2 separate regions of the Homo sapiens genome follow, and region 1 is linked to region 2. Evidence: fine-mapped expression QTL. A gene starts in region 2. The other region holds a variant in brackets. All regions are shown on one strand. Distances are between the middles of the regions. Region 1 overlaps STAB1 (stabilin 1). Region 2 holds the start of NT5DC2 (5'-nucleotidase domain containing 2).

Evidence for each region. PIP is the estimated chance that this variant, and not a neighbour inherited with it, causes the effect.
Region 1: its variant is the best candidate, but not a certain one, in a credible set for the expression of NT5DC2 in pancreas (GTEx, PIP 0.60).

What each region holds. Positions count from the first base shown.
Region 1 is chr3:52,503,901-52,508,274 of GRCh38, reverse strand. It overlaps STAB1 (stabilin 1), which reads right to left. Exons shown (of 69, transcript NM_015136.3): 9 at 4,373-4,374; 10 at 4,120-4,247; 11 at 3,726-3,814; 12 at 3,399-3,536; 13 at 3,132-3,272; 14 at 2,894-2,956; 15 at 2,494-2,607; 16 at 2,339-2,392; 17 at 2,025-2,105; 18 at 1,425-1,583; 19 at 600-662; 20 at 249-344; 21 at 1-2. Among named protein-coding and RNA genes, the nearest start is that of STAB1, 11 kb to the right of the region's middle. RefSeq lists enhancers at 703-1,304, 1,305-1,904, 3,271-3,776, 3,777-4,282. The variant C/T (reference allele first, on the strand shown) is at 2,441.
Region 2 is chr3:52,532,223-52,536,596 of GRCh38, reverse strand. It overlaps NT5DC2 (5'-nucleotidase domain containing 2), which reads left to right and starts at 2,740. Exons shown (of 14, transcript NM_001134231.2): 1 at 2,740-3,091. The coding sequence starts at 2,860. RefSeq lists silencers at 7-306, 2,341-2,840, 2,901-3,250, 3,281-3,370 and an enhancer at 3,501-3,630.

The DNA of each region.
Region 1 (4,374 bases), 28 kb after region 2:
TCCTATAAGAGACAGAACAGGTCCAAGAGGCCATCTGGGTCCATGCCCTCCCTGCCCAGGCTGCCTCTGCTCCCTGGCCCCATCTCCAGAGTGACGGAGTGGATAAGGTTTCTCTGGGACCCCTTTTCCACCGTCAGGCTGCAGTGCATCCTCTGAGGGAGGGAGCCCACTCAGCCCCAGCTTGGGGGCCCCCGAGGAACAGCAGGTGCCCAGGTGACCTGGGAGTGGGCACCCATGCCCACGCTTACCATGATGGTTTGGTTGCAGTAGCTGGCACAGCCCTTCTTTAGCACATTGAGCCCCGTTGGGTCATGGATGTAGACACACTCCTTGGGGAAGATGTCCTAGGGTGGGCCATGCAAAGCCAGTCAGTGGGTGTGGGTTCTGGGCCAGCCCCTTTGCTAGGCAGCCCTGGTTAAGGGACCTCTGCCCCCTGGGTCCAGAACTCTAACCCTGGTCCAGTGGGGCTGCGAAGCACTTAGCCTCCAGGTGTGATCTAGCCTCCCAGCCTCTGCTTCCCCCACCCACCCCTGTGACCCAGGGCAGAAACCTCAACAGGCAGTCAGGAGGCCCTGAGAGCTGGGCCAAGGTGTGCTCACCAGCTTCACACTGTTGGGGGGACACGTGCTGGTGTTCAGGGCTTGGCAGTCCACACAGGAGCCCTGGGCAGGGCAGGGGCAGGATGGGGAGAGGGGTTAGTCATTGTTTATTTACTCGGCAAACCCAGAGAAGGGAACATTGAGTGGGGATTAAGGGATGAGAAGAGCCAACCACAGGAAGCCCAGCACTGGCATTCCAGGCAGAGGAGAGCAGGGGCAGAGGCCCCGAGCCGGGCAGAGCTAGAGTCTCTGGAAAACAGCAGAGAGGCCAGAGGCAGGCACAGAGTGAGTGAAAGGGGATGGAGCGGTGGAGGATGCAAGAGTTATCTCAGGCCAGGCTCAGTGGCTCATGCCTGTAATCCCAGCACTTTGGGAGGCCGAGGTGGGCGGATCACCTGAGGTCAGAGGTTTGAAACCAGCCTGGCCAACATGGTGAAATCCCATCTCTACTAAAAATACAAAAATTAGCCAGGCATGTTGGCGGACACCTGTAATCCCAGCTACTCGGGAGGCTGAGGCAGGAGAATCGCTTGAACCCAGGATGCGGAGGCTACAGTGAGTTGGGATTGTGCCACTGCACTCCAGCCTAGGCGACAGAGCAAGACCCTACCTCAAAAAACAAAACAAATCTCAAAGATGGAATCATAGTCCTGGTGAGGGTGAGCGTGGGGGAAGCACAGGTGGGTCCTTGGGAGTCTGCCAGCAGGGCCTCAGAGCCGGCGTCAGCCCAGCCCTGACTTAGCGCCTCTCCCTGGGAAGAGGATTGCCGCTCCAGCGCTGACAGGGGTTAGTGAGTAGGGCCCTGGCCGTGCAGGCGAGGCTCACCGCCACAATCTTGTGCTGCTCCTCGCTGCAGTGCTTGGGCAGGATGGGCAGGATGGTCGGGGGCAGCAGGATGCCGTCCAGCATGTGGATCACACCATTGGCGGCCATCACGTCTACCCTCTGCAGCGGGACCCCCTCGGGTCCCAGCAGGATGCGCCCCTGCGGCAGAGACCCACTGAGCCAACCCCCAGCCTGGCTGGCCTTGGCCCGGTGGGGCTGCCCACCTCCACCCCTGCAGCCCAGTTAGAGCAGACAGGCAGCTCAGTGAGCTGCTGAAGGCCCCGCTGGCCATACCAGCCACCTCTCCTTCAGCTCTGGCCAACGACACTGCTCCAGGCTGCGGGTCCTTACCCACATGGCTTCTGCCACATGGGGCAGCCCTACCGTGTGCTCCATGCTCCTTTTTGGAGTCCTCCCCCTTAACTCTCATTGGGCCCCAGCAGAGGAATTTGATCTCTGCCTGCTTCCTTCCCCATGAGCCCGCCATGGCCTAGCAGTGTCCTGCCCACCACGGGGCTCGGAGCACACAAGGCTGAGAGGCCAAGTGGGCAGCTGGTCACCGCCAGCCCCACCATCCGCCCAGGTGTCCGTGCACCTCACCTCCTCAGAAATGTTCACAGCCAGGACCTGGTTCGCCATGGTGAGGATCCGACCCTTGGAGATGAGCTTCTCAACGGTCAGCTGGGGCAAGGGACAGTGTGGCTTTAGGCTGGGCTCTGGCCATACCTTGGGGCCACGCCCAGTCCTGCCCAGGAGGCTCACAGCCACCCCCTTGGTCCCTAGGCTCTGTGCTATAGCAGAACAGATGAGAAGGGAAGGGAGATGGAGAAGAGATGGGGCCTTGGGGAAGTCCAGAACCTGCAGGCAGGCCCACCGGGTACAAGCTGGCCGCCCCCCAGAAAAAGACCTCGCACCTGGCCGTGGTTGTAGATGTGGTACCGCACCAACTCCTGCAGTTTAGAGAGACCCTGGCAGGGGAGAGAGAGGGTTTGGCTCCTGGAGGAACTGTGGGGGAG[C/T]GTGGAGGTCCTGGTGCCCCCATACCCGCAGCCCCTTCTCCCGCTGAGCTTACCGCTGTGAAGAGGTAGATCAGGCGGCCGTCACGCAAGCTGTCCACAGCCTCATTGCTTGGGGCAAAGACTGTGAAGGGCCCAGGTCCGTCCAGGATGGAGGGCAGCCCACAGTTCTGTGGTGGTGCAAGGGAGGCTCAGGGGGTTGCATGGCCAGCCTCCACCTCTGAGTCCTGCCTGGGCCCTGCCACCTTTGGCCTGCAGGAAACTCCCACTGAGTAAGGGGGAGACATGGGCAATGGGTCCATGCTACCACAGAACCTCAGGCTTGAGGACGGGGGCATGGGCAGAGGCCATGCTACTTCAGAACCCCAGGTCACTGTGGGGCAGAATCTGGGATAATGAGTCCTGGCTCAGAAGCCCAGAAGCCCACATGGGCTAGGACCCCTCCCCCGAGCTTACCTCCAGGATGGTTTCAAAGCGGCTGAAGGCCTCGGTAGAGGCGAGGATCTGTCCGATAGTTCTCTGTAAGGAGGGATGAGTGTGAGGGCCCCAGGGAAGGGGTGAGGCTGCTTCAGCCCAGCGGGGAGAAGCTGCGCTCCAGCCCTGAGTAGAATGGCTCCTGCCCACTCACTGCTCTCTGCAGGGGTCTGAGATTACCCAGCAGCACAGGGGAGGGGAGGGGAGGATGCTGGCTCACCTTGGGATCCCCAGGGGTCCCAGAGGGGGCCTGCCACCGCAGGCCAGTGACCACGTGGAAGACGCCATTAGCTGCTATGTTGTTGGCCTTGTAGATGTTGAACGTCTGCTGGGGCTGGTCTTTGTACTTGTAGGAGTATTTCTGGTGAGACACAAGAGGTCTGGCCAGATCCCATATGCCAGCCCCCTGTCCGGAGGCTCCCTCCCACCTGCACACCCTTGCCAGGCTGTGACTCCTCTTGTCCCCAGGCTGAGGCTCCTCCCTCACCGTGAATTGGTTAAAGGTGACGGTGATCTCCTGCCCGGCCAGCGTCCACCACCTTCGTGTTTGTTGGGTCCTTGTGTCCTCCAGGATGTGCTGCCCTGCGATGATGTGCTGTCTACAGAGCTGCTGGGCAAGGGATGCCTGCAGACGCAAGGCGGGGAGCAAAGTGAGCCGGGGGGCCAGTCCTCTTCACACCACCTCTACCCAGCAATGGAGGGGACAGGATGCATCCCAGGCCCTGATGCCTTCCAGGTGGCCCTGAAGACTGGGGATGCATCCAGGGGAGGAGGTGAGGGCCAGTGGCCAGCTCCACCATGGGGAGGGGCTTACATTCATGGTCCTGGAGGAGAAGGAGGAGACGGATGGCACCAGCACGGTGAAAGGGCCCGCTGTGGTAAGGATTTCCCGGCAGCCCTGGTCTGGGGGGCAGGGTGAGGGAGCATCAGAAGGGAGCTGGGGAGACTCTGGGGATCTCAGAAGATGTTCGGGCATCAGACCTGGTGTGGGGGAGTTGGGGTGGGGGTATTCTCCCTAGATTTAGGGTAGATGGGGGCCTTGAGGTTGGAGAGCAGCTCCCACCCCCTGCATGCACCCCCCACAGCCACCTGTTTGTTCCCACAGCCCTGGGCAGAGAAACTGGAATCTGCAGAGGCAGCTCCTCCCTCCCTGCCAACTGTGCTGGGGGTGAGGGGTCGGGTCGTGGGCAAGCAGTGGGGTCACGCACCCATCATGGCCACGGCGACCCTCAGCTGCAGGAACACCCGGCCTGTCTGCGTGGCCTTCTGCACCTCGTGGAGCAGGTGTCCGTAGCAGGCACGCCCATCCCCCACCTCGCTTTCCCTGCACACACAGCTGGGCTCCCAGGGAGAGCCAGTCAGGGCGGAGGCTGAGGCCCCCCCCACCGCACCCCCCACGCCTTCCCGCAGAGGGCACGCTTGCCCAACCCACTGTCTCTGCTCCCAGGCACCTGTGCTCACCT
Region 2 (4,374 bases):
TGGGCGCCGACCTTCTAAAGCGAGGCGGATCCGCCAATCAGACTGCAGCGGGGGCGTGCAGCTCCGCCAATCAGAGCACGGCAGGGCGCGCGTGCTCCCTGAAGCCGAGCAGGGCCTCGAAGGAGCTGGCGCAGGCGCCTCAGCTCTGGAGGTGGGACGGCCCAAAAGGGAAGGACAGCCCACGTGGCGCCGGCCCGGCCCCGCCCCCTGCCTCCCCAGTGCAGGTCTGAGCTCGCAGTTGGCAGCCGCGCCCCCTACTCTGCCACCGCCATTTTTATTCCTAATACCCAGATAGAAGTGATGACCCTCTCTGATGGACTATGTACAGCACCACATTCCAAAATGCAATTATGCAATGCCTTGCGTTTATTTCGGAGACGTGATTGGTGCCTAGACTTCTAAAGTAACAGAATTTGATATGGAGTGTTGAAAGCTGAACTTTATCAATTATCACAGCAAAAATCTAAGTAAGCGCCCCGTGAGAACCCTAAAATTAATAAAAGCTATCTTGTATGGGGCACTTACAGTTCCACAGGCACTTGTAGGCGCTTTATTCACAATAATCGCAGAAGAGCAGTATAAAGAGCATGCACTCTGTTACCAAACCACATCCCTGCTCTACAGGTGCTCCCTTAGCCCATCTGTGCCTCAATTCCCTAAGCCGTAAAACGGAGGCCTTGTTCTGACGCTGTGATAATTTAGTGCGGTAATAGGAATGATGCACTGAACACAACCCTGGAGCATAGTAACTGATTAATATTAGTTAGAATATTCATTATGATGATAATGATTGGCAGAGCCCTCGCTCTTCACATGTATTCCCAAACATGGTTTTTGTTTGTTTCTTGAGACAGGACCTCGCTCTGTCATCCAGGCTGAAGTGCAGTGGCGCAATCTCGGCTCACTGCAACCCCCTCCTCCCCGGCTCAAGCCATCCTCCCACCACTACAGGCGTGCACCACCACGCCCGGCTAATTTTTTAATTTTTTGTAGAGATGGGGGTCCCACTATATTGGCCAGGCTAGTCTCAAACTCCTGGGCTCAAGAGATCCTCCTGCCTTGGCCTCCCAAAGTGCTGTGATTACAGGCGTGAGCCACCGCGCCGAGTCTGAACGTGTATTGTTTATATGTAGTCTCTTAACTGACAGTTTAAGAGACTATGCCAGGTAGAAGCAGGGCTCTGACTTAAGAGACTTCACTTGTAATTGCGTCTTCTCATGCTGCTGTGCTTGCTGAAGATAACTGAAAGGGGCTGTCACCCCATTACCTAGGACTAAAGTAAAAACTGCAGGAACAGCTTTGAGAAAGGAGACAACTATTAGACAATCTAAGGAAGGTAAATGAAAGCTTAGAACCAATGAGACGATTTGGTGATATGGACACAAAATATACAAAAGCAGACTGGAGAGAGCAAGCAGGGCCCCAGAAAGGGTCATAGGGCCCGCAGTGAGCAGCCTGAGCTGCCGCCTGTACAACCGGCTTTGGAGGGCCAGCCCGGAAGCCTCTTTCTCCTCCGGGTAGACTCCGCCCAAGCATGCACACACACAGGCTTGATGCTCGCTCCCGTTTCTACAGGAGGTTTTGACGGCTGGATGCTGCAGGGCATCCCCTCGCCTGGAGGAGGTTCACTTGTGGCCAGGTTCCCAGCACACCCACTTGCTCACTGGGGCCCTGGGGACACCGCCACACTCGAGCCCATCCTACGGCCTCAATCCTTACCAGTCCCCAGGCCATGGACTGCCACACTGTAGGTCTTCAATCAAGGTTCAGTGGAGTTTCGAATGTACACACACCCTGAAAGACAGCGCGGCCACCTCAGAAAACAACGCGCGCCCAGCTGGCTCCCCTCCGACAGGGCCCACGGCTACTGGGTCGGCCTCCTCCGGACCCTGAGCACAGCCTGGTATGCGTGCGGGCTCGGAATACGGATCTGAGCAGAAGAAATGCGAGTGGAGAGCGGTTCTGCGCAGGAAAGAGGAATTTTGTTGGAAAGCCTGTCGACGTTGCTAGAAAAGACCACAGCATCTCACGAGGGGCGTGCGCCGGGAAACCGGGAGTTGACGGGTCAGTGCGGCCAGTTGCCGAGGTCCGAACCAAGCGGGCGCAGTGACCGTGGCCCACAACCCTGCAGCGCACGGCCCAGTCACCTGGTTAGCGGACGTCGGCTGCCCTGCAGGCCCCTCGGCCTCCCCCAGCGTGGGCCTGGCACCGGGAAGCGCGGGAAGGGCTCTTTATTTGTTAGACCAGTGAGTGGACTGGCCCGGGCTCTGGTCAGTGGGCAGTCAGTCCGAGCCCAGAGACCGGGGACCAGGACCCCGGGAAAGGAGAGCACCAGGACTAGGGGGAGGAGCGGAGGATCTGGGGTCAGAAGCATCCAGAGGCGCAGGGTAGGGCGGGCGGACCCGGGAGCGGAGAGGGCGGCAGAGGACCCGGGGGCCCGGGGGGTACCCGTCGCGCTCCGGCTGTCTCCTCTCGGCGCCTCGGCCGTCCGGAGCCTCTCAGGGACGGCCGCTCTTAGGCCCGCTGACTTCCAGGGCTGGGGCCAGGGAAAGGCGCCGCCATCGCCGGCGTGACGGCCGAAGGGGGGCGCAGAGTCCTCCCGGACCGCGCCGGAGACTGGCTGGGGGAGGGGGCTGGGGAGCCCTCCCCGCCCCGCCCCGCCCCGCCGGGTCCGGGGCCTCCCGCCCCCCGGGCCGAGGGGCGCGCCCATTGGCAGGCCGGGCTCCGCGCGCCGCACCCATTGGCCGGCCGCCGTGAGGAGCACGAGGCCACCGTGGCGGGCGCGCAGTCGGAGGGCGGCGGGCGGCGGGCGGCGGGCTGGCCGAGGGCAGCGCGGGCGGCGGGCGGCGCGCGGTGGGCATGGCGGGTGCGGGGCTGCGGGCGGCCGCTCGGCGCTGGCTGCTGTGCGGAGGCCACGGCGGGCCGCGAGCCGCCTCGTCCTCGCCCTCCTGCCCTGGGTGCGGCCCCCCGGGTCCCGGCGCCCACTGCCCCGGCGTCCCGCGCTCCGCGCCCGCCCAGGCACCCACCAGCGGCGCCGACCTCAGCGCGCACCTATGGGCTCGCTACCAGGACATGCGGAGACTGGTGCACGGTGGGTGAGCCGGGGCGGGACGTGCGCCGGGGTGTCTTCCGCGTGGACTGATGGACGGACCGAGCCCCAGGGTGCCGCTCCTCCGGGGAAACACCCAGTGGGGCTCGCCAGGGCCCCGGAGCGCAAGGGCCGGGCGGCTTTTCGCGAGAAGCTCCGGCCGTTCATCCCGGGGGCCTCTGGGGCGCCCCGACGCCCGGGGGCGGGCGGGAGGTTTGTTCCCCGGCTCGGTCTGCAGGAGCTCGGGGCTCCTCGAGCGGCTGCCGGAGTGCTGGGCCCCCGCCGACTTCCTTCGGGGTCCCGCCTGCCGTGAAGCCGCGGTGGAAACGCCCCCAACCCCTTGTTCTCGGCCAACCCTTAGTTGGGGCGGGAGAGTGCTGTGGACAAAGCCAGCGAGCGGCGCCGGGCGGAACGGGCTCCTAGGGACGGCCGGACCAAAGGGGACACCGGTTGGACTTCCCAGACACACCTCGATGTCGCCCTGGAGGTCCGGCCCCCTCTCAGCCCGGGCAGCGAAGGCTGGGAGAAGCCAAGTCACCCCCGCCCCCTGGAGCCCAGACTAGGGCTGCAAAGGGCACTTAACCTCCCTGTCCCTGCTCTCTCCCTCTGAGAAATGGCGTGAGGAGGCTGAGGCCCCTTCTTGGAGGGGGCCGGCTGGGGCGCACTAGTGAGGCCCCAGAGCTGAGAGTGCTGGACATCTGCCTGCTTGTCTCCGTGGGTCTAGTGGGGCCCTGCTTCTGCAGCAGACAGATATGGTTTGGGTCGTGACCCTATCACTGACCAGTTGGGTGGTCCCCCAGCAAGTCTCACCCTCTCTCAAGCATGAAACGCAGTCCTGGGGCCTCTCTGTCCCAGGGTTGGGTGATGACTGGAACCAGGCCAAGCAGGGCAGGAGAGCTTCCGGAGGAACCCCCAGGGGTGACGTGGCTTTTGTTGTCTGATAAAACAAAGTAGCCCTGTCTGGAAGATTCTAACTGGCTAGACAGGGGTTTTCACTCCGGCTTTGTGGGGTGGCGGAGAATCACTTCTTGACCAGTAAAGGCAGGATGGTAAAGGCCCCTGAGGAATGGTCATTTTGAAGCCTTGGGCATCTGTCCACCCTCGAGGTCCCAGGTTGAGTTTGTGTCTGTGGAGGGGCGGCCCAGCGTTATTTAAGAAGTCTTTGCTCTGGGCCCGGAGAAGACCCTCAGAGTATCCTGAGAAGCCTGCCTTGGAGGTTTCAGGGAGGACTACGGGGATCTACTGGACATTGTCCTCCTGGGCCTGCCTGCATCTTTGGAGCCTCA